Linked DNA regions of Homo sapiens. The protein of the gene in region 4 interacts with the protein of the main gene of each other region in a biochemical or structural test. Each region holds a gene or a part of one and is shown on either strand. Other genes may lie near its edges. The genes, in order: IRF7, NELFCD, GNA12 and ARAF.

Evidence for each region.
Region 1: the proteins of ARAF (region 4) and IRF7 form a complex in vitro, tested with the Homo sapiens proteins (one study listed by BioGRID).
Region 2: the proteins of ARAF (region 4) and NELFCD form a complex in vitro, tested with the Homo sapiens proteins (one study listed by BioGRID).
Region 3: the proteins of ARAF (region 4) and GNA12 form a complex in vitro, tested with the Homo sapiens proteins (2 studies listed by BioGRID).

Annotation. Positions count from the first base shown.
Region 1 is NC_000011.10:612,951-621,027, forward strand, and holds the start of IRF7 (interferon regulatory factor 7), read right to left. Parts: upstream 3,001-8,077; 5' UTR 2,963-3,000; intron 2,698-2,962; 5' UTR 2,415-2,697; coding exon 2,395-2,414; exon of another isoform or gene 2,369-2,394; coding exon of another isoform or gene 2,310-2,368; coding exon 2,147-2,309; intron 2,058-2,146; coding exon 1,847-2,057; intron 1,585-1,846; coding exon 1,526-1,584; intron 1,450-1,525; coding exon 1,224-1,449; intron 1,088-1,223; coding exon 1,001-1,087; intron 916-1,000; coding exon 835-915; intron 646-834; coding exon 256-645; intron 168-255; coding exon 49-167; intron 1-48. Other genes in the region: CDHR5 (cadherin-related family member 5 isoform 1 precursor), read right to left, coding at 4,401-4,820, 5,004-5,161, 5,649-6,230, 6,356-6,440, 6,524-6,637, 6,731-6,931, 7,117-7,214, 7,346-7,436.
Region 2 is NC_000020.11:58,976,863-58,984,286, reverse strand, and holds the start of NELFCD (negative elongation factor C/D), read right to left. Parts: upstream 2,978-7,424; coding exon 2,918-2,977; intron 1-2,917. UniProt on the Homo sapiens protein: Essential component of the NELF complex, a complex that negatively regulates the elongation of transcription by RNA polymerase II.
Region 3 is NC_000007.14:2,729,276-2,736,396, forward strand, and holds part of GNA12 (guanine nucleotide-binding protein subunit alpha-12), read right to left. Parts: intron 4,408-7,121; exon of another isoform or gene 4,227-4,407; coding exon 4,176-4,226; exon of another isoform or gene 2,476-4,175; coding exon 1,906-2,475; 3' UTR 1,769-1,905; coding exon of another isoform or gene 1,746-1,768; 3' UTR 1-1,745. UniProt on the Homo sapiens protein: Guanine nucleotide-binding proteins (G proteins) are involved as modulators or transducers in various transmembrane signaling systems. Activates effector molecule RhoA by binding and activating RhoGEFs (ARHGEF12/LARG).
Region 4 is NC_000023.11:47,564,094-47,571,214, forward strand, and holds part of ARAF (serine/threonine-protein kinase A-Raf), read left to right. Parts: intron 1-703; coding exon 704-806; intron 807-891; coding exon 892-1,046; intron 1,047-1,149; coding exon of another isoform or gene 1,150-1,158; coding exon 1,159-1,257; coding exon of another isoform or gene 1,258-1,261; exon of another isoform or gene 1,262-1,882; intron 1,883-2,545; coding exon 2,546-2,687; intron 2,688-2,790; coding exon 2,791-2,818; intron 2,819-2,892; coding exon 2,893-3,038; intron 3,039-3,136; coding exon 3,137-3,339; intron 3,340-4,624; coding exon 4,625-4,801; intron 4,802-4,893; coding exon 4,894-4,940; intron 4,941-5,445; coding exon 5,446-5,564; intron 5,565-5,799; coding exon 5,800-5,931; intron 5,932-6,784; coding exon 6,785-6,919; intron 6,920-7,121. UniProt on the Homo sapiens protein: Involved in the transduction of mitogenic signals from the cell membrane to the nucleus. May also regulate the TOR signaling cascade. Phosphorylates PFKFB2.

The DNA.
Region 1 (8,077 bases), on a different chromosome or scaffold from region 4:
CAGTGGGCCTGAGCACATGGCCTCCCCTCCTTGAGGCTCTGGTCTCACCTTCACCAGGACCAGGCTCTTCTCCTTGGGCCTCCCAGCTGACAGGTCCTGCCCGAAGCCCAGGTAGATGGTATAGCGTGGGGAGCCACGGCGCTGCCGTGCCCGGAATTCCACCAGCTCTGAAGAAGGGGACTCTGCTGAGTACCTGGCAGGCAGGTGCTCCCAAGGACCCCTGGAGACAGCCCCCCAGGCAAGGGCCTCACTGACCTTGGAAGAAGACTCTGAAGTCGAAGATGGGGGTGTCACAGTTCCGAGGCAGCAGGCAGGCTGGGGTGGAGGGGCTGGCGGAGCCTGGGGGTCCGCCCACCTCCCAGTACACCTTGCACTTGCCCATGCGCCGGGCCCACAGCTGTGGCCCCCGAAGCTCCAGGTGCAACCCAGGGGCCACGTGCCGCAGCAGTTCCTCCGTGTAGCGCAGCTGCTTCTGGTCCGGGAGCTCGGCAGGGCTGGGGAATGCTACCTGCTGGGGGTCTGTGGCCCGGACAGCTGGGTCTGGGGGGCCGTATAGGAACGTGCAGCTCGGGTGTCCCACCACCTTCTGCAGCACCGTGCGGCCCTTGTACATGATGGTCACGTCCAGCGCCCCTGGGCTGGGCTCTGTGTGGAGACCAAGCTGTGAGTGACGGGGGTGGGCGGGGACAGGCTGTGAGTGACGGGGGTGGGCGGGGACAGGATGTGAGTGACGGGGGTGGGCGGGGACAGGATGTGAGTGATGGGTGGGCGGGGACAAGCCGTGAGTGACGGGGGTGGGCGGGGACAGGCTGCCCCTTCCTGGGATGCACTCACCTTGCACCGCGGTGCAGGCGCTTGGGGAGGGTGACAGGTACGGCTCTGCCTGGTGCGGGGACTCTGGGGCCGCGGCCTCGCCTGCATCCGGAAGGGAATCCTGTGCTGGCACCTCATCCCTAGCCTCTCCCTGTGCCCCAGGCCTCCCAACCCCTACCCCTCTCACCTGTCGTTAGTGCCGCGGGCTGGGGCCCGGGGCTGGGGGTCGTCTCTACTGCCCACCCGTACAGCTCCCCAGCAGGGAGCCCTGGGCCTGAGGAGGGGAGGACAGTGGGAACGGTGGTCCCCTCCTAATTCTCCAGCTCCCCAATCCCCAGCCCCCTTCTAAAGTGTCCGTCCAGGTGCACTGGCCCCTCCCGCGCTCCCCCCCTCCCCGGGCACGCCCACACCTCCAGCACAGGCCCCAGTCAGGGGAAGCCCTTCTTGTCCCTCTCCAGGAGCCTTGGTTGGGACTGGATCTGCCCCCCATGACGCTGTCAGCAGATGGTCTGCCAGGCAGCTCTGTTGCACTGCCTGGAGCAGGAGGTCCCCCTTGTCACCAGCTGGGGCAGGGAGGGGGCCTGGGGCTTGGAGTCCAGCATGTGTGTGTGCCAGGAATGGCCCTGGGGGCCCACCCTGCAGGGAAAAGTCAGGGTGAACGTAAGCAGCTCCGCGGCCTGGCAGGAGGAGAGGCAGGCAGAGAGAAGGGTACCTGTGGTGGTGGGACAGCTGCGGGGGCCTCTGCCTCAGTCTGGTCCGTGCCTGGGCCTTCTGAGAGAGAATGGGGCAGGCGTTAGGCCCCGACACCAGAGTGAGAGATACAAGGAGAGCCTGGTGTAGCCCCCACCAGCTTCCTGGCTGTGAACCCTTAGGCTGTGGCCTGAGGAGGTGGGGATGTGGCTCTCCACCTGTCCTGGGCCTGCTGGCAGCCTCTCCCAGAACAGCTTCTAAAACCACAAATCTGACCCAGAGAATGTTCCCCTTTGCCCAAGCAGGACGAATGCCAACGCCCTTGGCAGCCGGCGTCGCTCACCTCGCCAGCACAGCTCCCGGCTGAGCGCGTACACCTTGTGCGGGTCGGCCGGGTCCCCCGAGTTATCCCGCAGCATCACGAAGCGACGCGTGCTGCGCAGTGCGCAGCGGAAGTTGGTTTTCCAGCCGGCGCGCTCCGCAGTCTCAGCCTCGGGGGGCGGGCCACCTCCCCTGCTGCTAGGCGGCCACCTGCCGCGGGCCACAGCCCAGGCCTGAAGAGGGGGACAGAACACGTGTGCCGGGCCCGCGGGGTCCTAGGCGGGCTCTCCCACCCGGGGCGGGGCGGGGCTGGGGTCCCCACCTTGAAGATGCGCGCGTCGGCCTCGCTCAGGTCCTTGCGCGCGAAGTGCTTCCAGGGCACGCGGAAACAGGTGCGGGCCTCGTCCAGCCACTGCAGCCCCTCATAGCAGCCGCTGCTGATCTCTCCAAGGAGCCACTCTCCGAACAGCACGCGTGGGGCTGCCCTGCGGGTGCCCGGCCGCGGAGAGTCAGGGCCGGCTGCAGGGCGCTCGGGGACTGGCATCTGGAGAGGGTGGGCCGGGCTCTTACCTCTCAGGAGCCAAGGCCATTGCTCCTTCTGCAGGGGCAGTTAGGTGGCGGTCAGGTGTTATAACAGGGGAGGTAAGGGCTCCTGTCGCAGCAGACGCCAGGCCGCGGCCACAGGTCGTGTGGCCAGGTGTCACAGGTGTCCACAGGTGTGGACTGAGGGCTTGTAGCCACCGACGCTGCCTCGGTATGGATCTCTTGGCAGAGGGGGCTACAGGTGTGACTGCAGGTGTGGCCGGCGCGCACACATGAAGTCACAGGTGTTGAACCAGTGTCCAGGCCTGGCGGGAAGGCGCAGGCCGGACCCTGCGGAGACGGGAAAGGCGACGTCAGGGGCGGGTCAGGCTCCCGGGAAAGCGAAACCTAAACAGTGGCGCTTCGCACCCTCCTCGATCCCACCCCGTCCGGTTCTCAGCTCCGCGGAACCCCGCCTCCGCCTCCGCCTCCCTCCCCGCCCGACCCTCATCTCTCAGGCTCCCCCAGCTCTTGGCTCTACCCCTCCGGGGTCACGGAGCCCCCACGGAGGCTCTCGCTCCCGGCCTGCACCGCGTGGGTCTGGGGTCCCCAGTACCTGGGTGCCAGAGCCGCCGGGACGGGAAGTTTCGTCTCGCGGGGAAGCGGAGGGCCGGCGCTTTTATGGTGGCCAGGCGGGAGTTTCCGGGAAGGGCGCGCGCCGCCTGTTCTTATTATTGGATGCGACCAGCGGAACCCCGCCCCGGCCAGCGCGGAGTAGGGAGGAGTGGAGGGCGTTGGGAGTGGCTGCAGTGAGCCGAGATGGAGCCACTCCACTACAGCCCAGGGGACAGAGCAAGACTCAGTCTCAAAAAAAAAAGGAAGTGGGTAATGGGAGGTGGACGTGCCTCGAAAAAGGGGCAGCTGCACCGTTTGCGTTTCTTTTTTTGAGATGGAGTTTCGCTTTTGTTACCCAGGCTGGAGTGCGGTGGCACAATCTTGGCCCACCACAACCTCCGCCTCCCGGGTTCAAGTGATTCTCCTACCTAAGCCTCCCGAGTAGCTGGGATTACAGGCATGAACCACCACGCCCGGCTAATTTTGTATTTTTAGTAGAGACGGGGTTTCTCTATGTTGGTCAGGCTGGTGTCGAACTCCCGACCTCAGGTGATCTGCCCACCTCGGCCTCCCAAAGTGCTGGGATTTAGGCGAGAGCCGCCGTGCGCAGCCCCCTTTGGGTTTTTTACATTGTTCAGTCAAGAATATCAGATACTCTCACAATTAAAACATTTGGAAAGGAATTAATGGTGTATTTCCATTAGGGAAAGTGCTGACAAGCCGCAAGGGATCCCTTGATGGTTCTGGGCATGGGCGCCCAGCCTGGGCTCTGGCTTTGGGAGCAGCGAGGGGAATGTGTCTCTCACCCCTAGGCCTCCTGGTCTGGCTCCTGCTCAGGCCACACGGCGCACCCACCCCCAGCGCGCCTCAGTCCAGGTCACTGGGCAGGGTGTTTACTGCTGCGCTCCAACCCAAGCATGTAGATTTCAGAAGGGGACTAGGACCCCCGGCAGGTGTTTGAGACCACCGGCTCCCAAGTGCGTCGCCTTGGGGGTTTGCATCGGCTCCTCAGCCTCCCCAGGCAATCTCTGTGTAGGGTCGGGAGCGGGAGGTCTGAGATGAGCCGGGTGCCTGAGATCTCCGGTGCAGGTCGGGGGAGGGGAGCCCCCCTCGGGCTGTGGTTAGAGCGGGAGAGGAACTTCCCAGACTAGCTGGCACAGAGCCTCGGGAAGGCGGCGGGCACTGCAGGTGGTTTACGGGAAGTGCTGCAGCCTTGGGGTGGGGACAGCGTGGCCAGACCCACCGCCTCATCTGCACACCTGGGCTCAAGCGCTAATGACGACAGGGGACTGAGTGAATGGGACCCCCATGGACCCGCGCGCCTGCCCCACGCCATGGCCTGGGTTTCGGGAGCCTTGCTTTATTCTGCCTCGGGTCGGAGGCTGGGGGAGCGAGACCTCCAGTGCCCGTGCGGCTGGGGGAGAGGGTGGAGGGGCCACTTAGATGTAGGAGTCATCACCACCGGGCGCATCGTAGGGACCCCCACCCCTCCCCGCGCCCTCGCCCTCATCGCCGCTGCCGGAGTCACTGGCGCCATCCACGTCCAGGGTGGGCGCGTTGAGAACGACCACGTCTGCCTCCGTCCCGATGTCCTCGCCAAACCAGACAGCCTTGTACCCGCCCTCCGGCCGCCGCTCCTTGGTCAGGATGGACCTCACCGCCGTGGGGCTTCCGCCAGCTCGGGCCGCTGCGGGGGGCTCAGGGGCACCGCCTGGGGAGGCAGGGCCGGGGGGTGCGGGCTCTGCGGGCATCGGTGCCTCCGCGGGCTTGGGGTCGTGCGTGGGGCTGGGGACGGGCGCCCAGTTGGCCTTGTGGTCAGGGAGGAACGCCTGGTTGTCAAAGCCTTGGGGCTGGGGCTCCTGCAGGCGGGAGTCGAGGCGTCAGCGGGGTCCCTGGGTCTCTGCAGCCTTGGCCCTGCACACCCTCATTCCACGCTGGACACCCCTCCGTCTCCACATCTGTCCCTCTGCCCTCCCCTCTCCTGTCCCCCGTCCCCCACTTCCTGCCTGGTCGCCTGCCCTGTTCTCCATCCTGGGCCTCACCGGAGCTTTGCCACAGCAGCACTTGAGCCGGGGGCCATAGTGCTTGTGGACAAGGACGGCGAGGCCAAGGAGAGCCAGCAGCAGCAGCGCACCCAGCACCCCGCCCAGGGCCGCCATATCCACCACCGAGAAGCGCTTGTCCTCCGAGGGGCCGCCACCTGGCATCGCAGTGGAAAACGTCATCATCCCCGCACTGTTGAGTGCCCCAGGCATTTCCCATGCCAACCTGTGCCAGGCTTGGGACACTTGGGTTCCACCCAGGCCTGGGCTGTCTCCCAAATCTCAGGCTCTGCTGACCCTGGCTCAAGGGGCCTGTGTGTCCCATCGAGACCCTGCCCACCCCCTCCCCCCCGGGAGGCCAAGCTGCTCACAGGAGCTCACAAGAGGTGCAGGGACTTGCAGGGTGAGCGGCAGCCGTGGGAATCGTGGGATTCGCTGGACCCCACATCTGGCCTCTGTCCTACACACATCACAGGTTACCTCACTGGGGGCCTTGGGCCTGTCTGTGTCTGTCAGTCCCAAACAGACTCCTCTTTGGGATTTCATGGTCAGGCCAGGTCAGCCTGGGGTGGACCCTTCCTACAGCGTTTCCCATACCAGCCAATGACCGGAGTCAGGGAGGGAAGGCAACAGAGTGGGTGCTACCTGAAGATGGGGTGCTCTTGCTGAGGGGCATCGGCTGAGAGGTTCCTGGCTCTGGGGTCTGTGCTGTGCCCCCACCGGGTGTGGTTGGTTGGTGGGAGGTGCTGGTTCCCATACCGGGGGGCATCGGCTGAGAGGTTCCTGCCTCTGGGGTCTGTGCTGTGCCCCCACCGGGTGTGGCTGGTTGGTGGGAGGTGCTGGTTCCCATACTGGGGGGCATCGGCTGAGAGGTTCCTGGCTCTGGGGTCTGTGCTGTGCCCCCACTGGGTGTGGCTGGTTGGTGGGAGGTGCTGGTTCCCACACCGGGGGGCATCGGCTGAGAGGTTCCTGGCTTTGGGGTCTGTGCTGTGTCCCCACCGGGAGTGGCTGGTTGGTGGGAGGTGCTGTTTTCTGCACCCGGGGGCCCCCCGGGTGTGGACGAGGTTGGTGGCCTCAGAGTTGTGCCAGAGGGTGGATGAGGGCCTGTGCCTCCCCCAGAGCTGGTCGTGGAGGGTCCCTGGGAGGGCTCAGGGGGTCTGGGGACCTCGGAAGTGGTGCTGGTCCAGGGCCCAGTTGTTCCTCCAGCCTCTGGGGATGGGGGGACATCTGGGGGCCGGGAACAGTGCTTGGGCTTGCCTCTGCCCGCCCCTTGCACACCTACCGCGGGAAAGGAGCCACCGAAGGGGCTTATTTGGAGAACCCTGGGGGCTCACCTGTGGAGGGGGGCTTACCTGTGGAGGGGGGCTCCTGTTCGGAAACTTGTATCTCAATGACTGTGGTTGCGGTGCCAGAGGTCACCGTGTTGTGGGCCTCAACCTGGGGCAGGAAGGGGCTTGTCCCTCCTAGACACATCTTTAAGCCCCACACCCTTGGAGATGCCCGCCTGCCCTGCCCCGCACCTCTGCGTAGAAGGCTCCCGCCTGTGCCAGTGTGGTGGTGGTCAGCACAACCTCTCCCTCCATCCGGAAGTGTGAGTGGTTGGTAATTCGATATGTGATGGCCGAGTTGAGGTCCTGGACAGGGTCTCATTGAGTCCCCGGCCAGGCTGCCTCCCACGTACAGCCCTGACCCACCCACAGAGGGGAGGCCTTGGATGCACTCTCTACCGAGAACTCCGGGTCCTGAGCCTGGATCCTCAGAGGCTGAGAAGGGGCAGCTGCATCCTTGACCACAACGCCCGCTCCAGCGCCACGCGCCACGGTGCCACGATACAGTCTCTGGGGGAAGCGGGGCGGGCTCCCGGCCGCAGCCACAGCCTCCACGGTGACCTGGGTCACTGAGTAGCGGGCAAGGTCGGCCTGTTGGCCCTGGAGGCGGGGGAGGCAGCAGTGACTAGTGGGGTTGAAGGTGGAGCTGGCGCTGAAGGCTGGGGCTCAGGAAAGGCAGGTGCAGACTTGGCGGGGGCCCTGCCCCGGCCCCCCAGCCCTGACCCCCCGCCCTACCTTCCACCCTTCCCCCTCTGCCCTGCCCCCCATGCAGGTGCCCACCTCACCTTCACCAGCAGAAGGAAGGTCATGGGGCTGGGGACACTCCTGGCCACGGTGAGGTTGCCCGAGTCTGGGTGGATGATGAATGTACCATTCACGTTTCCTGGGAGGATGATGGAAGTGCTCAGCCCCGGCCCCCTGAGGCCCAGGGACCCAGCCAGCTCTGCCCAAGGTGGGGATGGAGACAGGGACAGAGGGGGTACAGGGCATTGTTGAGGGCTGGGCCCCACTCACCCCTAAAGATGCTGTAGATGATGGGCTGGTTGATGCCGCGGTCTCCGTCCTCAGCGTAGATGGGTCCGGGACGCAGGACGAGGGGAGATGGCTTCAGGGATGGCGGAAGGGAGGGCACGTCGTGGGGCTGGGGTGGATGGCCCCAGCCTGGCCCCTCTGACTCCCCATCAAGGGCAGGGTTGGCTGAGGAGGGGCCCAGTCCCGCTGGTGGCCGGGCGTCCCTGCCTGCCTAGGACAGTCCCTTGTCCCAGCATCACAATCAGTAACACCCCTGTGGGTCCCTTACTAATGAATGAGTCCAGTGGCCCAAAGATACTGAGTCCCATTTGCACAAGGCTTGTCTTGACGGGTAAGCAAACATTTAGGAAGTGGGGGCTCCCGGGGTCTGCATTTCTGCCTCCCATGTACTGTTTGGTGGCCCCAGGTGCCTTGGTGCCAGGAAGGTTTGCAGACAGCCTGTGTGGGCCCAGTGGTGACTGTGAGCAGGGCAGAGATGTCAGCATCCCTTAAGAGCTCCAGGGCCCCAGCCCACCTCCCCAGGCCCCTGAGACCGCCTGGCTCTGGGGCCCACGCTCCTCCCTGTGTGTTCAGGGTTTGCTCCCTCACCGCTCAAGATGGGAAGGGTTGGTTTACAAGGAGAGTCTGCATTTGTTTCAAAATCACGACCGAAATCGGCCCCACCCCCTGACCCCGACCCCGCCCTTCCTCTCCTGATCCTGGCCGTCCCTGTGT
Region 2 (7,424 bases), on a different chromosome or scaffold from region 4:
TCAGGAAAAAACGCCCCAGCTCTAGCAAGAGCGTGCCCTTCCCACTTCCCCTGTCCGTTCTGACCTCTCACCACTCCCCATTTGCAATCTGTAGCAGGACTCATCTATTTGCATGTCTGCAGCTCTTAGTTTCCACCATCCAGACTGAACATCACGGTGGCCTCCTTACACATCTTCCTACCTCCCACTATGTAACATGGCATCAGGCGAACAGAATTTGGGTCACCAACTATCTTTTAAAATCCAGTTCTTGCCACCCTCCTAACACCTTTCCTAACTTTCTGTACCTCTTCCAAGCAGAGTCACAGAATAAACATGAAATGAACGTCTGGTCCACCCCCCTCATCCATGAGAGCCCACTGGTGTCAGTGGGCCAAATTAGGATCATGATTAAAATTCCCCAAACATGAGACTCCCCAATCTCCCATCAGTGGGGTCTAGGTCTGACTGCACAAACTTGGGCAAATAACTCACGTGCTTGGTCTATAAAGTGAAGGTACTGATTAGATGGCCCTTATATGCCCCAGTTCTAACACTTTATGACTCAAAGCCTCAAGGTGAGGCCGGGCACGGTAGCTCACACCTGTAATCTCAGCACTTTGAGAGGCGGAGGCGGGCAGATTACTTGAGGCCAGGAGTTCGAGACCAGCCTGGCCAACATGGTGAAACCACATCTCTACTAAAAATACAAAAATTAGCCGGGTGTGGTGGCACCGGCCTGTAATTCCAGCTACTTGGAGAATCACTTGAACCCAGGAGGTGGAGGTTGCAGTGAGCCAAGATGGCACCACTGCACTCCAGCCTGGGTGACAGAGTGAGACTCCGTCTCAAAGAAAAAAAAAAAAAAAAAAGGCCGGGTGCGGTGGCTCACGCCTGTAATCCTAGCATTTTGGGAGGCCGGGGCAGGCGGATCACCTGAGGTCAGGAGTTCAAGACTAGCCTGGCCAACGTGGTGAAACACTGTCTCTACTAAAATACAAAAATTAGCCGGACATGATGGCGGATGCCTGTAATCCCAGCTACTCAGGAGGCTGAGACGGGAGAATTGCTTGAACCCAGGAGATGGCAGTTGCAGCGAGCTGAGATCAAGCCACTGCACTCCAGCCTGAGCAGCTAAGCGAGACTCTGTCTCAAAAAAAAAAAAAAAGAAAAAAAGGCTCAAGGTGATATACTAGATGCCCCAAACACCAACCTACCACTAAGCTAATTCACACCTTCTCATCTGGACCACTTTGGTAGTCAGCAATTTGACGAAGTGGCAACGGAGGCAAAGGATGTGGGTTTGGGTCCCCTCTCCTTCCTTTATTAGTTTCATGACCTTGGGCAGGTCAGTAAGTCTTTTCGTCTCATTTTCTACACTTACCAGATAAGTAGGGTAACACCCAACTCAAAATCCTGTGTGTGGAAGGGGATAACGCATGACACACATGGCCCAAGCTCTCAGTTAGCTAAGTCTGACTCTATCCACTCCACCCTAAGCCTCCAACACTGTGAAATGATCCAACATGCAAATCTACTCGTGTCACTCCCTGCCCCAAACTCCTGAACAAGCCATACCATTCAGCAGCTCTCCAAGGATCTTCAGAACCTGCTCCCTACTGACCTCCTGCCACTGCTTCCACCAGGCAGCTAACATCACAGGGCTTCTTTCAGTTCCAGAAACACATCGCCCGCCTTGGCATTTTAGACCATGGCTCCGAAGCCGCCATCACACCACCACCCATGTTTATCAACGTAAGCCCCACTTCATCCTTTATTCCCTTATAATACCACTTCAAAATGCACCAGACATCCCCAATCTTGATTGTTGTTAAAAATGCAAGTTCCTGGGCCACGAGCAGTGGCTCACGCCTGTAATCCCAGTACTTTGGGAGGCAGAGGTGGGTGGATCACCTGAGGTCAAGAGTTTGAGACCAGCCTGGCCAACAAGGTGAAACCCCCTCTCTACTCAAAATTTTAAAAATTAGCTGGGCATGGTGGTGGGTGCCTGTAATCCCAGCTATTCGGGAGGCTGAGGCAGGAGAATCGCTTGAATCCGAGAGGCAGACGTTGCAGTGAGCCGCGATGGCGCCATTACACTCCAGCCTGGGCAACAAGAGCGAAACTCCACCACAAAAAAAAAAAAAAAAAAAAAAAAAAAAAAAAATGCAAGTTCCCAGGCTCCCGTCCAGACCAACTGTTGGGCCGTCTCCAGGGGAGGGACGTGAGAAGCTACATTTCAATCATGCGCCTCAGTTGGGTCTTTAGAGTAAGGTGGGGACACACTGTCCAGACTAGAGCTACCTGCCCTGGCTCTGCAGTCCCTGTCCTCAGGGTGGAACAGTGATCCCTCCTGGGCTTCCACCCCAAACCCTGGAAGGTCAAGGCCCGAAAATCCTTTCCATCAGTTTGCCCAAAAACAGATGAAATCAGCCCAAGGTGCTGAAGAGTACAGTTTATAAAACAGTAAAGCACATGTAGGAATGCCCTAAGTTCTACTTTTTCCTCATGATGCTGCTGTGAAGTTTTTCCACTTTATTTTTGTTTAAAAGTCTGTGAGCTCCGGACCCAACCCTCCACCTTAGCGTTGGTGTCCCGCCCGCCGCGGGGGTCGCAGGGCCGGCGCCGGGCCTGGCCGGAGCGAGGGGGTACTGGGGGCCTCGGGCCGCCCCGCGCCAGAGCCTCCGGCGCCTCACCCCCACCCCAAGGTCCTGCAGGCGAGGAGGCGGGGACCCCGGCGGCCGCGCCGCGGGACCCCGGGCGGGCGGGGGCGGGGCGGGCTGTGCTTGAACCACACGGTGACCGCGCGGGCCGTGCGCGCGCACACCCCCCGCACGCCCGCAGCCTCGCGCCGCGCGGCCTCTCCGGGAGTGGGGCCGGCCCGCCGGCGGCGGAGACGAACGATTCTCTCTAGGGTGCGCCCAGTGCCCCGCCTCACCTGGCCGCCGTCAGCCTCGTCGCCCCACTCGGCCGCGCTCCCGTAGTAGTCCTCGTCCATGATGGCGCCCGGCACGGCCCCCGCCATGCCCTCCCGCGAGCGAGCGCGGCGCATGCGCGAGGCGGGGACGGGCGGGCGGGCGCACGCGCGGCCGCGCGCCTCGGCCCGGGCGGGAGGCGGGGCCTGGAAGAAGGGGCGGGGCCTGGAGGAAGGGCAGGGCCGCGGGCTCGGCACTGGGAACAAAGGGGACCGGCGGAAGGAACGCCCCCAGTCGATCCCGGAGCGATGCCCGGGTGGACCAGGGGCTTAGCTCCGGAGAGAGGTTTCCCACTGGATTCGTGCACAGCCCCTCCCCTGCGGCGCCGGCTCTGCGAGCCCCAGTTTCCTCATCTGGCAGCTGGAAACAAATCCTTCCGGAAGTGTCCAGGACCCACGAAAGTGTTTTAATTTCTTTTAGTTTTGGTAAAAAGTACTAAACGCGACCGGGCGTGGGGGCTCACGCCTGTAATCCCAGCACTTTGGGAGACCGAGGCTGACGGATCACTTGAGGTCAGGAGTTCGAGGCCAGTCTGGCCAACATGGTGAAACCCCGTCTCTGCTCAAAATACAAAAATTAGCCGGGCGTGGTGGCATGCGCCTGTAATCCCAGGTACTCGGGTGACTGAGGCAGGAGAATCGCTTGAACCCGGGAGGCGGAGGTTGCAGTGAGCCAAGATCGCACCATTGCACTCCAGCCTGAGCGACAGAGCGAGACCCTATCTCAAATAAATAAATACATACATAAAAAGGGCAGGGCACGGTGGCTCACGCCTGTAATCCCAACACTTTGGGAGGCCGAGGCGGGCGGATCACCTGAGGTCAGGAGTTCGAGACCAGCCTGGTCAACATGGTAAAACCCCTTCTCTACTAATAACACAAAAATTAGCTGGGCATGGTGGCGGGCGCCTGTAGTCTCAGCTACTCAAGAGGCTGAGTCACGAGAACCGCTTGAACCCAGGAGGTGGAGGTTGCAGTGAGCCAAGATCACACCACCGCACTCCAGCCTAGGCAACAGAGTGAAACTGTGTCAAAAAAAAAAAAAAAAAGAAAAAGAAAAAGAAAGAAAGAAGAAAGAAAGAAAAGAAAAGAAAAAAGAAAAGAGAAGAAAAAGTACTGAATGCAGTGGAAAGTAGCATTTTTAATTTTTTATAAAGTGGAAGATAGGCCCACAAAGCAAAAGTGCCCAGAGCTGACAAAAATCTCTGGAGAAAGGACCTCTCTGGTCGTTGCCAAAGGGAGCAGCTGACGCTGTTGTAAAGCCCGCAGCTCGATTCCCAGCGTGAAGTAGGGGGTGAGAATATGACAGCCTCCTGATGATCACGGAAAGGTTTTTGTTTGGTTGTTGTGTTTTTGTTTTGTTTTAATTTTAGATTCGGTGCGTGTGCAGGTTTGTTACATTGGTATATTGCGTGATGCTTCTAATCCTTTCGGCAACTTTTTCAGCCTTTACCCCCCTCCACACCTTCTGCCTTTTGGAATACCCCATGTCTGTTGTTCCCATCTTTGTGTCCAAATCACAGAAAATTTTAAACAGGGAGATTAACGCCATAAAATCTGGATGCTTTGAAAGGTAACGCCCGTGGCTGAGCGCCGCGGCTCACACCTGTAATCCCAGCACTTTGGGAGGCCAAGGTGGGAGGATTGCTTGAGGCAAGAGTTTGAGACCAACCTGGGCAACATAGCGAGACACCGCCCCCCCCCTTCCCCCGCCCCCAGCCAGGTATGGTGATGCACGCCTGTAGTCCTAGCTGCTCGGGAGGCTGAGGCAGGAGGATTGCTTCAGCCCAGGAGTTTGAGGTTACAGTTTGCTATGGTCGTGCCATTGCATTTCAGCCTGTGTGACAAAGTGAGACCCTGTCTATAAAGAAAAAAAAGAAAGGTAATGCCCATGTCAGTAAGGAAAGAGTATTAGAGAAAAGAGCTCCAGAAGATTGATAATAGTGACTACTTTTGGAGAACTTATCAGGGAATATGTCTTCATTTATTCAACAAATGTTTATTGAGTGTTCCCTAAGTGCCCAGCACTGCGCTGCTCCCTGGAGCTCGGTGAACAAGTTGGACCTGATCCTTGTCCGGGTAGAGCCTACATTCTACTGAAGGAGCTGAATGGGGGGAGGGGGTGGGGGGAACAAATAAGATAAAGACAGAAGGTGATCAGTGCTAGTATTCTGTGATAATAGAATCTTCTTGGGGAGATCAGAGATGGCTGCTGAGCAGCTTACATTTGAACTGAGTCATGTCATGAAAGGGGCAAGCTAGCTAAGACCCAGGCAAGAGCATTTCCAGAGAGCAGAACTGCCAGGGCAAAGGCCAGGCATGCGTACTTGGAACAGAAAGGCCACTGAGAGCGGCACCTGGCAGGCCAAGGAGAAATCTAGATGAGGTGGGCAAGGCAGGGAGGGCCAGATCTTGGGAGGGAGTTAGGTCTGTATTAACTGAGGGCCATCTCTAAGGATTGAATGTAATGAGGTATGCCAAGCACTGAGCAGAGAGCTTGCACATGGTAGGTGCTCAGCAAGTATGCATCATTATGAGGAAGATGAAACGTTTGGATTTTTTTTTTCTTGCTCTGAGCGGGTGAAAGGACATATCTGAATTTTCAAAGGCATTTCTCCTAGCTGAGGGGGCCTTACAGAAGGAAGTGAGAAGGTGAGAATGTAAATTAAGAAGCTTCCGTGAGCATTAATGGAGGGGGTTGCTGAGAAGGAGCTGTGGCTAACTGCTGTGAAGTTGGGGTCAAGTCCAGAGGATACAACAGCCTTGGGGGTGGGAGATGGGGGCCAGGAACAGGGGCAGGGAAGATGCTGCTGTGACCCCCAGCTTGTGTGCCTGGGGATGGCCCATGGCTGAGACAGGGAACCCAGGAGGAGGGCAGGTTTCTCCATGGGATGATAATGAGTTCATTGGGTTGTGCTGAGTTAGAGGTGCCAACAGAACACCCATGCGGAGATGTCCTGCAGGTGGTTGGAGGTGGAAGTCTGCAGCTCCGATTCAAAGGATCCAGCTCCAGCTTCTATTCACAAGATTAAAGTGTATTAAGTTAATGAGTGCCCCTGCTGTTGGCTTGTTTCAGGGTTCATTTTCACTTGCTTTCTCAAAATGTTGGAAAGAATAGATGGCTGTTAAACTCCTCCTACCTCTCCTCTTAGATTTTTTAAAAAATAGTGCCAGAATTGAAAGCGGACCAATTAATGTATGTATAACTAATTGTGCCTACGGAATTGGGGATTATTCAGCTCACTTCTCCTTCAACCAACAGGTTGGTTAATCCATTTATTGTTAAATGGATTAACAACCCGTAATGAAACCATTACATTCAGCCTATAAGTCACAATGATTTAAAAGTAATTGGGTCAGCCGGGCGCAGTGGCTCAGGCCCGTAATCCCAGCACTTTGGGAGGCCGAGGCGGGTGGATCACGAGGTCAGGAGATCGAGACCATCCTGGCTAACACGGTGAAACCCCGTCTCTACTAAAAATACAAAAAAATTAGCCGGGCATGGTGGCAGGCGCCTGTAGTCCCAGCTACTCAGGAGGCTGAGGCAGGAGAATAGTGTGAACCTGGGAGGTGGAGCTTGCAGTGAGCCGAGATCATGCCACTGCACTCCAGCCTGGGTGACAGAGCGAAACTCTGTCTCAAAAAAAAAAAAAAAAAAAAAAGTAGTTGGGTCTATAGGTCTTGCCTCCTGAGATATTGTGGATCTGTTGTTTTTTCCAAAGCCTTGTCTAGATTGTCCAGATTAGCTTGCATTGCTTAAATACTCCTAAAGTCATTTAAGTTCTAAAGTCATTTTCCTGTTTAAGAAGAATTCTGGGCCGGGTGCGGTGGCTCATACCTATAATCCCAGCACTTTGGGAGGCCAACACAGGCAGATCACTTGAGGTCAGGAGTTTGAGACCAGCCTGGCCAACATGGTGAAACCCCGTCTCTTCTAAAAATACAAAAATTAGCCAGGTGTGGTGGCGGGTGCCTGTAGTCCCAGCTACTTGGGAGGCTGAGGCAGGAGAATCGCTTGAACTTGGGAGGCAGAGGTTGCAGTGAAGTGAGATCACACCACTGTACTCCAGCCTGGGTGACAGAGCAAGACTCTGTCCCCTGACCCCCACCAAAAAAAAAGAAGAAAAAGAAGAATTCTGGTGGAGAATTTTTATGAAAATTAGAAGTTGGTTTCACTTAATCCATTGAGGAAATACTTACTGAGTGCCTACTAGGTGTCAGGTGCTGGGATATAGCTGAATCAGAGACACAATTCATCTGGTGCTAATGGCAAAAAAGGAGAAAAGAGAAGCTATCTCTAACAATTTTTTTTAAAAAATGCAGCGACCTCAGAAAGAGGTCAAGAAGTCCTTTCCAGGGAAATTATGTTTAAGCTGAGACTTGTGACTTCAATCTGGAGGACAAAGAGAATAGGGTACAGTGGAGAAAATAAGAAATGACAGTAAAGAAAATGGCTGGAGTGCAGACATCA
Region 3 (7,121 bases), on a different chromosome or scaffold from region 4:
GCGTCACTGTTGCAGACTGCAAATGGGACCTGAGACCACCCCGAGGGCCCCACCAGGAGCTCTCTTTCTCCTTTAAAACGTGGTCATCGGCACTCATCTCCGGTCACATCCGTGAGGTCTGTGAAGAGCCACAGAAGCAGTACAAAAACAGCGACTTCTTTATCCAGCCAAAAAAGGAGCCACAAGCCCAGCAAACACTGACACACAGCCTCGAGCACTGCGAGAGAGAGTTCCATGCTGTCTCCCGATGAGAACGCTGTGCTAACAGGGTGACCCAGAGGCAGGTTTCCCCTCCCTCTTCTGCTTCTGCATCTGCCCCAAGGGCTTGCGTTTACCGGGTTTGCGGAAAACAAGCCAAGGGTGAGCTGCAGAGGGGCTCGGGGCTCGGGGCAGCACGGCCTCGGGACGAGGGCCCTGGGATATGTGACTGAGCCACAGCAACATTCGGGTGCCAATTAAGAGGACGCTTTTCATTTTCTTGTAAATGCTAGGACACATCCCAAAACACACTAGGCAGGATTTCTCAGTAGAGTGATACACAGAGGGGACCAGCTTGGAATGCAATGTATTTTAAACACAGTGAAAGCCACCTGGCAGGTAGCTGGACAAGTGAGCTGGGCCCAGGACTGGCCAGCTCGTATCAACATTCACAGGCTCCCGCGGGCTCCCCCAGGACAGCGGCATCCGAGAGTGTTTACTCTTCTGCAAGCACAGTCATAGAAGCGAGGGGCCTCGATGAGAATCAGACTTAGGGAGAGCGGCGAACAGGCACGGCTGTCCAAAGGCACTGGTGGAGCGGCAGTTTGGAGAAACTCAAGATTCCTCCAGCGTCTGTGGGCTTCCCGAAAGGTCAGCTGTTAGCTCGCCAAGCAGCTGGGGCATTAACAAAAGCTCTGCTAGTGGCCTTGCCAGCTTTCTGAAGCCCCAGAAGAGGAATGTTTCTGAAAGAAGGAAACGCTATGTGCTGCCAACTGTGTGTGAGCAGATGACTTGCAGGAAGATGGGAGAGCCGTCTGCAAGGGGACCTGGTTTCTGTGTCTTTGCCGTTGGGTTGGGCAGTGGGTGGCTAAGGGGAGAAGAGCACCGCTGTGTGTGCACGGACGGAGCGGCAGTCACCGTGGGCATCCTGTCTCACTCCGTGTTGTGCTGCTGGGCATGGGGCAGGGTGGGAAGGGCTGAGCCTGCTGTAGGGGCGTAAGGTGAATCCACACCTGCAGAGCTCTGCAGCCCGTCCTCAGAGCTGGGAAGGGATCCTAGGCACGGCTCCTCAGCTTCATCTGAGAGGCTTGGACTAGGGGCTCTTAGGAAATCGGCACGGGAGTTTGAAAAGGCAACGTGCTCCCTTTGGGAGGTGGCCTTCAGACACTGCGGCTGGGGCTGCAGGGCCGGGCTCAGGCACTGAGTTTAGCAGCATCGGCGTGCACTGGATCTCTACAAGCTACTGTTAGGCAAAGCTTTCAGGTTAGTCTGTCTCAGGGAAGACTTGTGAGTTAGAAAAGCCGTCTGCAAGGCCAGCTGGTTTTTGTGTTTCTGTCATTAAAGACAGAGCGTGTGTACACACATACACACACAACACGGTCCTCAATTAAACTGCGTCAGAAAAAGAGGAACGTTTCTGTAAAAGCAAAGCAAGCTGTGTGATTAGGTGTTCCGTATTCACAACATCATCACTCGGATTTTCAGTAGTTTCACTCGCCCCCAGGATTCAGTAGCTAACGTGACAGTTTCCATGTCCTTTTGCCTAGAGCTCGCTGGCTGGCTGGTCTGACAGCATTCCTGAGCCAGGTATTCCAGGGCACGGATCCGAGAAACCCACTCAAGGACCACACAGACAACACACACCCAAGAGTCTGACCGACAGCCGTGGGGGCTGCTCAACGACGACAAACCCCGGGGCTTCCTCGCTCACTGCAGCATGATGTCCTTCAGGTTCTCCTGCAGGATGGTGTCTTTCACAGCATGGAACACGAAGCGGACGTTCTCGGTGTCGATGGCGGTGGTGAAGTGGTGGAAGAGTGGCTTGCTGCGGTTCCGTCTCTTCCTGTCGAAGCACTGGACCAGGTAGCGCTGGACGTCCTCCAGCCTGTGCGGGTCGCCCCTGAAGTCCGGGAAGTGCTTCTTGATGCTCACGGTCTTCACCTTCTCCACCAGGAGGTCCATCTTGTTGAGGAAGAGAATGATGGAGACGTTGAAGAAGAGCTTGTTGTTGACGATGGTCTCGAAGATGTTCATGGACTCCACCAGCCGGTTGGTGCGCCTGTCCTCCATGAGGACCTGGTCGTACTCGCTGGAGGAGACCATGAACAGGATGGACGTGATCCCGTCGAAGCACTGGAACCACTTCTGGCGCTGGGACCGCTGGCCGCCCACATCCACCATCTTAAAGGGGATCTTCTTAATAACGAAGTCATGCTCCACAATTCCCTTGGTGGCTTTCCTAGCCAGCAGGATATCTTGCTTACTAGGAAAGTAATTCTGTAAAATACAGGATGAGGCAGAAATTTAGGGGGAGGAAGAAAGAACAGAGAAAATAGAAACAAAAAGATGGCAAAAAGATAAGAAGGAAAGAGACTGACTTTTGCAACAGGTTGAACCAGAAACCAAAAGCAAATTTCATTTATAACATTATCAACTGGCCGTGAAACAGAAAGAATCAAATACTTCATTTCAAAACGAACGGAGGCTCACCAGTCTGAGGACGAATGCTCAGAACACTCGTGGGCAGGCCCAGCGCAAAACCACATCCATTTTCTTCTCCAGAGGAAATTTACCATCTTTTTTGTTTCCATACCAGAGATACCTTTTTATTTTTCTAACTCCTAAAGCTTATAGCTTCCAAAACCTTACTGTGAATTAATTTAGGTTTTGAATGTGATGTAAATTCAATCTGCAATACATTTAATGTTATTCTTAGACAATTCTTTAAGTCTTTAGCGACACACAGGCAAGCATACTCTTCACTCACTTTGACTTTGCACTATTAATAATCCTCCAGGCCAGGCACGGTGGCTCACACCTATAATCCTGGTGCTTTGGGAAGTGGGAGGAATACCTTGAGCCCAGAAGTTCAAGAACAGCCTGGGCAACATAGTAAAACCCCATATTTACAAGAAGTAAAAACATTAGCTGGGCGTGGTGCCTCATGCTATAGTCCCAGCTACTTGGGAGGCCGAGACAGGAGGATCATTTGAACCTAGGAGGTTGAGGCTACAATGAGTTACGATCGTGCCACTGTACTCCAGCCTGGGTGACAGAGTGAGACCCTGTCTCAAAAAATCGAAAAACAAAACAGAACAAAAAACCAACAAAACACCTCCCGTGATGAGTGCACACACCACTCAGGCAGCTTCTTGCCAAAACACCAAACACGGACATGATCATGCCTCGATCTAGAGGTCTGACTACCACCCACGGGGTGTGCAGGGGACAGAGAAACATCTTCAATAACACTGCAGGGGTGGAAGAGCAAAGTCCACATGGTAAGAAACCCTACAGGATAAATAATCCAGTTACTCCAATAAACAAGTTGAAAGAAAAAAAGGAGAGACATACAGATTAACACTTAAGTGATCCTGACCAATGGCAATGCATGACCTTATTAGGTTGTTGATTCAAACTCTGCTAAAACAAAGCAAAATCAACATGAAAACATTAATGAGACAACAGGGAAAATCTCTAAACTGACTAGGTTGACATTACGGAATTACTGCCAATTTTTCAGGAGCCATACGGTACTGCGGTTGTCATTTTTCGTCTTGTCTTTTTGAGGTACACTCTAAAATATTCTCTGCATTTGCTCCCGGAGGCCGGGGGAGGGCTGCTGAAACAAGACTGGTAATCAGTGATAACTGCCATGCCTGGGGTTTCATTAGACTATTTGTTTTTGAGTATGTTTGAATTTTCCATGAGATAAAGGAAGTCCTCCTTTCACTCATGAACTCCTCTGTCTGTCTCCTTTATGGTGATCTGGGCAAAGGCAGTTTCCTCCCCTCCCCACTGAGACGGGGCCCAGATCCAAGTGAGAGCGTGCCATTACAGTACTATTCGTGGTAATGTGACAGAACAAGCTCGGCCTGTCAGTCCAGCCAAAGTCCTCACAACGTGGACTGCTTTGGTCTCTGGACACGTTTTCTAACCCTGGAGCCCAGCTTCTTCGGGCGGGCGTGCTTACTCACCAGCTGGCCGATCCGGTCCAAGTTGTCCAGGAAGTACTTCACCGACTCCCCCTGTCAGGAAGGAAGAATATTCACAGCTCAGTCTGGACTGAGGAATCCTGATGTGGCAAATACAAGAACTGAACAGGGTAAGAGCAGTGGCATTTCGCCTCCGTGTGAATGGGAAAGCAAAGGAAAAAGGCAGAGAGTGTCCGTGTGTTTTCTAAAATAAAAAAACTACCATTAAAGAAAATGTTTAATGCAGGTTCTTTAGCTCCAACCCCAAGGTTCAAATTCTGGCTGTTTTTCAATTTTCGCTGCTGGGTTTTGGTGTGTGGTGCGATGCAGGCCCCTCTGATGGGGGACTCTCTTTCCAGACATGAAGGCTGGCCCACTCCTGGCCATGCGGCCAGCAAAGGACAGGCTAGAATAGGATTTTAGATTTTGGCTCCTGGGTACAGTCTTGCTTCTGTCGAAGATGGCCTAAGGGACCCAAGACATTGTCCTTAAAGACAAAACATCCTGACGAAAAGGAGCATCTAGCAAAACATCTTCCAGTTTCTAGAAAGAGTCCATTATTCCTTCCCACATTTTTATGACCTGATTTATAGTAGCAAACACAGGGGAATCTTCCATTTGGATTGTTGTGGTGGAATGATGGCCAGTCTTCTCCTGCCTGGACCAATCATCGATACAATCTGAGACGTGTTCCATAGTGCGAAGGGCCCTGCGGAATCACCCAGGACCCCGTTTCAGGAAGCGCTGAGCCGCCAAATGCGAGGCACACACGGGGCACGGGAGGAGCCGGGAGAGCGCAACCACCGACCACAGAGCAGCCCGCATATGAACAGGCACGCAATGAGTCCCTTCAAAGGTAGCGTATTAAAAACCAATTATACCACTTTCTATAAGATTCCACTTTGAACCCTGCTCTAAAGACAGACACCAGCAGGCGGGGTCAAGGCTTCCAGGCTGCCCTGACATCAGGGCTTGTGGGAAGAGCAGTCACTTTCTGTGTTCTCATGGAAATGTACAGGGGCAAGGTCATACACATGTGGCGAGCTGACGCAGGAGAATTTTAAGGAGAGAAGGCCATCAGAATGGACTACGTGATGGCGCTGAAGCTCGTGGCGTTGTAAGGGATGGAGAAAGGCGGCCAGCACCTGCTCAGTCTATCTCTTCCTCCTCTGTCCCAGACAGACTGAGGGGAGAAAGCAGAGAGGAAGCTCCTTCAGGGAGGAGCCCACCTTCCTACTTTAGAACGAAGGCCTCTGGATGTTTTCAAAGTGAGTGTTTTGTTTGAGGGGACAGAAACACACGTCTCCCCATCCCAGCACTGCCTGTGTTGAGCGAGCACACATCCTCCTCCTCTGTGGCAGGACGGGGCGAGCACGTGCACCTCGTGACCACCGGCTCTCTAGAGCCCCAGGCAGAGGCCCAGCTCTGCAGTAGGGAAGGCATCGGGAGTGCCAGGGTGAACGTACCCCAAGGGCCCGGCACGACTGACCTCTCGTGCCTGCTCTCTCCCTTCCTCGCCAAGCCCCCGTGATGTGGGAAGCCAGCGTGAGGCCGGTGGGGCAGCCGCCTTCCCGTGGCTGTGCCAAGTCCCCCCGGTCCTCTGCACATCATGCCTCCTTCCACACCCTGACAGGAAGCAGCTGGGAGAAGCCGTTGGGTGCACTCACTCCCTGATTTACGACAAGTTCCTTCCTCAGCGCCTCTCTCTCCTGCCTCCTCCTGCTCTCCTGCCCTCCCCTGGGCCTCGGGAGGTGCCACGCAAGCCCAAGAAGCATCAGCATACTGTCCCTCCCTCTCCTGTGGCCACGGGCTCCCCCAGGGAGCTGAGAGTAGCAGCAGCTCACAGCCCAAGCCACCCTTGCCCGTTTCTAGGCAGGTGGTGGCACCAGGCACGAAGGAAGCAGAGGCAGTTCTCCTGCAGGGTTCTAGCTGGGTCAGGCATGGAGAGTCACAGTGGCACAGATGCCCCAGCCAGTGCTCTTATCACCACAGGACACAAAGCCCTGGACACACGTGCTCCGCCCAGATAGTACGGACGCAAGGGGAAAAGCACCACAGAGGGCACAATCAGGACAAGCTCGATGGGAAGCAGAAAACAGGAGGGACGTTTCCCTCGGTGTGAGTCTAAACACCCCTCGAGTCTGCAATCAGTCCCCCAGCTGCACTTCACAACACAGCAAACACTCACTGCTGCTTTCTCCACGATGACTGAATGAGGATGGCTCATTTAACTCATCACAGCATTTGTATCACTACTTGGAATGCAGGAAAACTTATCTGTGACTCTCGGTCATCTTGCATGAGTGGCGGAGGAGAGGAGTCAAATCTAGTTTCATGTCAGGGCGGCCTCATCTCGAGAAACAGCCCAGGGGGTCCGTGGGAAAGCTGCCACTGAACTGTAAGGTGCCAGGGACTGTGCCACAAGCTCTCTAATGGGGGCTGGAGGGGAGGGAAGAAGGGGACACAGAGCAACCCTGTGTGATCCAGAACGCTGTCACTCACATCCGCACTCTTGCTGTCCCTGAGGTTTGGTGCACTGCGGTTCACCAACAGAGACTGGACAATGCACCTGCTGATTGGGCACGCAGCCCACGGGACGATCGTTTGCGACGGACTCCTCAAGTCTTACAGCAGCAGCTCATTAAAAGGGCCAGGTTTACAATCCCATGCATTTTCAACACTAAGAGAATTCAGTCATTTCTTTAGAGAAAATGCATGTGGCAGAAACTGAGATGTCCACATGAAATTAACCGCTTGGTGGGTTTATAAAGAGGCACTGTGCCTGCCAAGACGAGCCCAGAGTCCTCTCAACGGCTGCTGCGGTCACACGATCTAGAAACACGAGTGGATCCAAAGTGGGCTCTCGGGACTCTCCTTGGTGTGAAAAACCTACACCACTCAAGATTAACACAAACTTGGACTTGCGGATTAAATGAAATGAATTTCATT
Region 4 (7,121 bases):
GACCACAGGTAACTGAAACCATGGAGAGTGAAACCACAGATAAGGGAGGACTACTGTAGTTCAAGTAATCTATGAGTTCATCCATCTTTTGTTTTGTTACTTCATTGGTTTATTGGCCTGTAAGGTCAGCAACTCATTCTCCCCTGGCCCCCAAGTCCTCACCCTGGTCCATCACTTCTGCCCAGATTTCATCTATTTTGTCCTTTCACGATGTCATGACTTCATCAGGTCTCTTCTTCCTCATTTTCCCCATTCTCTGTCTGCTGAGTTGGGTCTTGCTGACTTTATTTATTCCTCTCTCGTGGGTTTCCTTAATTTATGATGCAGTTCACACACTGCACTTTATTTGTTGTTTCAGTGCCTCCTCAGCCCCCTTTTCAGGGGCTGGCTTAGCGCTTCTAAGATGTAGTTGTTTAGTTTCATTTGCTTCTCCCCTTCCGTTTCAGAGCATGGACTCTTCACACCGTCATGCCTCTCATTACCCTTGTGGCCCAGGGCCAGTCACTTTATCCCTCTGAGCCTGTTTCCCCATCTGTAAAGTTGGGGCAAGGATAGTGACTAATTTCTAGAGTTGCTGTGATGAGAATTAAACATGCCAGACATGACCCTGTGGGTAGCAGGCTTGGAGGGACTTGTGGGGGTTCCCTGCCTCCCCATGGCCCCTACCCAACCTCCCACTCATTCCTTTCCATGCCCCCTGCAGACGAAAGACGGTCACTGCCTGGGACACAGCCATTGCTCCCCTGGATGGCGAGGAGCTCATTGTCGAGGTCCTTGAAGATGTCCCGCTGACCATGCACAATTTTGTGAGTGCAGGGTGGACGGTGGGGGTGGACCATGGTTGGGGGTGTCCTTGACCAGGTCTCAAACTTCCCTGCTCTGTGGCATCAGGTACGGAAGACCTTCTTCAGCCTGGCGTTCTGTGACTTCTGCCTTAAGTTTCTGTTCCATGGCTTCCGTTGCCAAACCTGTGGCTACAAGTTCCACCAGCATTGTTCCTCCAAGGTCCCCACAGTCTGTGTTGACATGAGTACCAACCGCCAACAGTGAGCCCAGCCTGGGGTGGGTGGGGGGATGGGGAGCACAGAGGCCCAGCCACGAGGCCCTTACAGACAGCTGACCCGTGTCCCCTTGCTTTATACCCTTCATGCCCTCAAGGTTCTACCACAGTGTCCAGGATTTGTCCGGAGGCTCCAGACAGCATGAGGCTCCCTCGAACCGCCCCCTGAATGAGTTGCTAACCCCCCAGGGTCCCAGGTAGGGATGCCTTAGCTGAAGAGCTGCTGGGGGAGAAAAAGATCTTGGGGCTCTTGTAGACCACGAGCCATACTTTATTCATTTGTTTACTTGACAAACATTTATTGAGCACCTACAAGTGTGAGTAAGGGCATGAAACTGGGACCTTGGGCAAGTCACCTCATTTCTCTGGGCCTCAGTTTTCTCATCTGTAAAGAGGGGATGATGATACTTTCTACCATATAAAGGTTCTGGTGAGGCTTAAATGAGTTAAGACATGTTCAGTGCCTAGAACAGGATCTGGTACAGTGTAAATAATCAATTTTTTTGTTATTAATTATAAATATATTTATAAGCATCTAACTACTTTGCTAATTCTAGTATAATCATACTCAAGCCTTTCCATTTTGAAATACGTATTATTTTATCATAAATTACTTCCCTTTTATTGCTTTTTTATGTTAAATATTATATAAAACTATAGCTATATTAAAATATATTATTGCTCTAATATATATTTTATGATGTGCATATTTTATGGTATATTTATGTTATTGTATCATGTTGTATTACATAATTTTATATAATGTAGAACATCATACATGTTTATATGATACATAAAATAAAGTTAGGGTATTATTTTAAATTATGAGTGTATGTGCATTAATTACCTTTGAGTTTCATTTCAGGATAGTGAAGGGAACATTAACATATTTTTGTAACTTTACAATATGTTTAGCATATATCATATGTATAACATGTATGTATAACAATATGGTAATATGTATATTTTAAAACATTGCCATTTTTATATAGATGATACATATTATATAACATTTGAAAAGTACATGTAATTATAATATATAATTATAAAATATGATACATTACCCTTTCCCCACTATCTGTGTGGCCTGCTATCCTGCCTTTAGGCGTTTACTCCATTGTCATCTCCTCCTCAGAGAAACCTTTCCTGACACTTTCTAGGAACACTTTGTGTCTCCTTATTTTGCTTTACTATTTTTCTTTATTGCACCTATCACCATCAGGCATATTATATATTTGTTTTTTATTTCAGCCCCACCAGGGCAAGAACTGTTATTTTGTTTTACAGTTTTATCTCCACCACCTAGAATGGTATCTGGCACACAGCAGGCACTCAATAAATGTTTCTTGAAGCAATGAATAATAGTACTGCCAGTGGACATTCGCTCTGTGTGAGCCAAATGCATGTTTATGGCTGGGGGTGGGGTGGGGGGCTTTCTCGGTTCTCTGATTCCTGGCAGTGATTTCACAGCCTTTCCCCTGGCAGCCCCCGCACCCAGCACTGTGACCCGGAGCACTTCCCCTTCCCTGCCCCAGCCAATGCCCCCCTACAGCGCATCCGCTCCACGTCCACTCCCAACGTCCATATGGTCAGCACCACGGCCCCCATGGACTCCAACCTCATCCAGGTTGGTGCTGTGGGGGACAATGCCGGGGACCACAGGGCAGAGGGTAGAGCCATCCCTGTTGGCCTCCATGCCCTCTTTTTGACTCCTGTCCCTCTTCTTCTAGCTCACTGGCCAGAGTTTCAGCACTGATGGTGAGTCCCCTGTGCCTGCACCCTGACCCCCGCTGCCCCACTTACCTCCACTCACATCCTCTCTGCAACTGCAGCTGCCGGTAGTAGAGGAGGTAGTGATGGAACCCCCCGGGGGAGCCCCAGCCCAGCCAGCGTGTCCTCGGGGAGGAAGTCCCCACATTCCAAGTCACCAGCAGAGCAGCGCGAGCGGAAGTCCTTGGCCGATGACAAGAAGAAAGTGGTATGCTCGAGGGGGATCCTTTTGGGGCCACCAAGGCTGAGTGACGTGGGATGAGGGATGTGGGCAGGCCTCTTAGATGCCACCCATCTGGCCCACAGAAGAACCTGGGGTACCGGGACTCAGGCTATTACTGGGAGGTACCACCCAGTGAGGTGCAGCTGCTGAAGAGGATCGGGACGGGCTCGTTTGGCACCGTGTTTCGAGGGCGGTGGCATGGCGATGTGGCCGTGAAGGTGCTCAAGGTGTCCCAGCCCACAGCTGAGCAGGCCCAGGCTTTCAAGAATGAGATGCAGGTGCTCAGGTGAGGTGGCATGTGTGCGTGGATGGGGGTGGCAGGCCCGGCCTTGGCATCTCTCTGGGAAAAGGCCATGCTTGGAGTGCTTCCTGGACATCACCTGTGTTTGTGTTGTTAAACCATCATCAGAAGTTGTTTCTCTCTGAAGGGTGTCCCTTTCCCCTCTGGGAAATGAGTATGTTTAGAGGACCTGTGATCATGCAGTTGTTTGTGTTTGGGTTATTAATGAATGGTTCTGCCTCCAAAATGTGGGTCTTCTCATTTGCCTGCTGCGAACTGGGTCTGTGTGTGGGCCACCATTCTTGTTACTGCATTGCCAGGAAGGCTTCCATCTTTCCTTCCCCTCTGCTTGGGCTACAATGGTAATGTTCTGTTTATAGTGTTGGTTCTTGTTATTCATTAATTCTAATACCTTGATTTAAACAATATTATCATCATCACCATAATCTAATCATTGCTTAATTATTATAATTGCTGTAATATGTAATCAATACAGTATTCATCTAGTCACGCTAAGAAAGCCAGGTGTCTCCTTTTTGCTGCTATAGTTACTATGTAGCATAGTACTGTATACCTATATACTACAGGTAGTACTGGATAGCGTCTACCAACCCTGGGGATGTTGGCATTGGCTTTTCCTCTGTGTCAGATGGGCACAATTATGTTACAGAGAATAAGGTAGCTAATGCAATGATCAGTTTTACAGTTGAGGAACATGAGGCCCAGAGAGGTTAAATGTCTTTCCCAAGGTTGTACCTTGAGTACCTGGTGAGGCCTAGATTTGAACATGAGTCCAGACTCCAAGCTCTTTACCTCTAAGCTTCTCATGCTGCTGAACAGGCTCTAATCATCATATATCACCAATGTTTTAATCCTGCATCTATCCATATTATATTGATACATCAGTGAGGAAGGTTGGCATTCTGCTTTCTCATCTGTGAGATGGTCACAGACCCAGGTAATGGTCAGAGTCAGAGGGGTGGGGGATGTTAATGATTAGAAATGCTGCTGTAGGCAGGGAGGGGGAGGGGCAGCAATTCCTCCCTCCTGCTTTTGTTGGGAGACTCGGATGGGGAAGCTCCACATATGAGCCCACAGCACAGAATCATAGCCCAGTAAACACATCTCACAAATTCATGGAATCTGGCAATGCTTTGGTCCTGAGTGCCCCAAAAGACAGGGTGAAAATAAATGACCGAGGAAGGTAAAGAACAGTGCCACTCCTGATGCTCGGTAAGTGACAGTTGCTATTTTTCCTCCCCACCTCTGACACTGCCCTCCCTGCCTGCAGGAAGACGCGACATGTCAACATCTTGCTGTTTATGGGCTTCATGACCCGGCCGGGATTTGCCATCATCACACAGTGGTGTGAGGGCTCCAGCCTCTACCATCACCTGCATGTGGCCGACACACGCTTCGACATGGTCCAGCTCATCGACGTGGCCCGGCAGACTGCCCAGGGCATGGAGTGAGCCTCCCAGCCTGGGGAGGGGTGGGGGGAAAGGGTGGGGGAAATGAGGTAACCCCCAGCCAATCCGCCACCTGCCTCCACCCCCACAGCTACCTCCATGCCAAGAACATCATCCACCGAGATCTCAAGTCTAACAGTATCTATCTGTCCCTGGGCTGGGGTTGAGTGGGGGTGTCAAGGGCTTAGAAGGATGCCTCTTGTGGGGGTTCTGGGAATTACAAGGGAGGGGCATGTGTCCCAGAGCTCCTTGCCAGGTGGCAGAGCTGTGGCCAGCCAGGGGGCTTTAATGGCAGTCTCTTAGAAGTCAGAGGTGTGGCTGGTTCAGGTACTATTCTTGGGGACTCTGGTTAGAGTCTGATGTCTGACAGTTGTGGAGGGCATTATGGTCAACATCAGAGGCATAGTGGGTTCGGATGCCCTCCGAGGGGCTTCCTGTTCAGGAGTCACAGCGGGGCTGAGTGTGGGGGGCATTAGCAGGCGTTCCCTGCCCACGTCAAGGTTGTGGATAGTTTGCGTGATATTAAGGGGCTCCTGGTCAGGATCAGAGGGATGAGTGGTATAGGGGCACCAATGGGAACCTCCCAGGCAGGGTGAGAGGCATGGCTATTAGGAGTCCCTGTAGTGGTCCTTGACCCTGGCGGACATCTTCCTACATGAGGGGCTCACGGTGAAGATCGGTGACTTTGGCTTGGCCACAGTGAAGACTCGATGGAGCGGGGCCCAGCCCTTGGAGCAGCCCTCAGGATCTGTGCTGTGGATGGTGAGTTGGGCCAGGCTGGATGGGGGGCACATGGGGACGTGGGCTCCGGGATTGGGGTGTGTGGGGCCAAGTGGGGACGGGGATGCCTGTGCCAGATGTGGGTGTCTGGACTCCTCATGTCCCACCTCGTGTGGGTGGCTCTGAGTTGTACCCTGTGTGGCCAGTGGGATCTGGGACTGTGGACCAGCCATTTGCTGACCTCCGTGGTCCCCCTGCCTGGTCTGGCCTGTTGTAGGCAGCTGAGGTGATCCGTATGCAGGACCCGAACCCCTACAGCTTCCAGTCAGACGTCTATGCCTACGGGGTTGTGCTCTACGAGCTTATGACTGGCTCACTGCCTTACAGCCACATTGGCTGCCGTGACCAGGTGAGCCCCACACCTTACCCACAGTTCCCTGGGCTGAGGGATCCCCTCAGGCATCCATACCCCACATCCCCTCCTTTGCACTGATAAATGCCACACTTTCCCCAGAAACCTAAAATTTTCTAGGATAAGGACTCCCAGAATCCCTTGGGCTCCAGACACTTACAATAAATTCTCTGGGTCTCCCCTACCCCAACTTCCCTCTTCTCACATCCACAGCCCTCTGGGACAAAAATCTTTGAAGTCCAAAATGCCCCGAATCTCTATACCTAGAATCCCCTGAGGCCCCCAAATACCCCAAAGCCCTCTGTATCCCTAGACGCCTATAGTCGTCTGCTCTGGGTACTCAAAATCCCCCAGATCCTCAAAGCCCAGATCTCATTTCTCCCAGCATCCCATTTTTCCCCAGAAACAGAACCCCTTTGTGCTTCTGGAATAGTCATGGACACCCACAGTCACCTAGGCCTTGGGTATCTAGCAGGCCCCAGGGCCGGGATACCTAGAACCCTCTAGGCCCCAGACCCCCACAGAAGTACAAGCTCCCCCAGACCCAGAACTCCATGTTTTCCCGAGACTCAGTACTTTCCAGGTCCCTAAGCCTCCTAGAAACCCGTGGGCCTATAATCCTCTGAGCCCCAGATACCTACAATCCTTGACAACCCCAAATTTAAATCCCTCTGTTCTGAAAGCAGAGAATCCTCCCAAGTCCTCAAGGACAGAGAATCCTCTGGGCCTTGATACTGACAGTACCCCAGCTCGCTAAAAATGAACCTTCCAAGTCCCTCAATACAAAATTCCTTGGGCCTCCCAGCCCCTGACCCCAGATCACCCCTTTCCTGCCCCCGTCTGCCCCCAGATTATCTTTATGGTGGGCCGTGGCTATCTGTCCCCGGACCTCAGCAAAATCTCCAGCAACTGCCCCAAGGCCATGCGGCGCCTGCTGTCTGACTGCCTCAAGTTCCAGCGGGAGGAGCGGCCCCTCTTCCCCCAGGTGGGCTGGGTAGGGGGCTGGACACCTTGGGTGGGTGACTCTGGGATAGAGGAAGACTGAGATGGAGGCAGATGTGAATATGAAAGCTCAGAGGTATAGTGTGTGTGTGTGTGTGTGTGTGTGTGTGTGTTTCACCATGAGGCTGGGACTGTTGGGGGTGTGTGTGTATGTGTGTTTCGCCATGAGGCTGGGACTGTTGGGT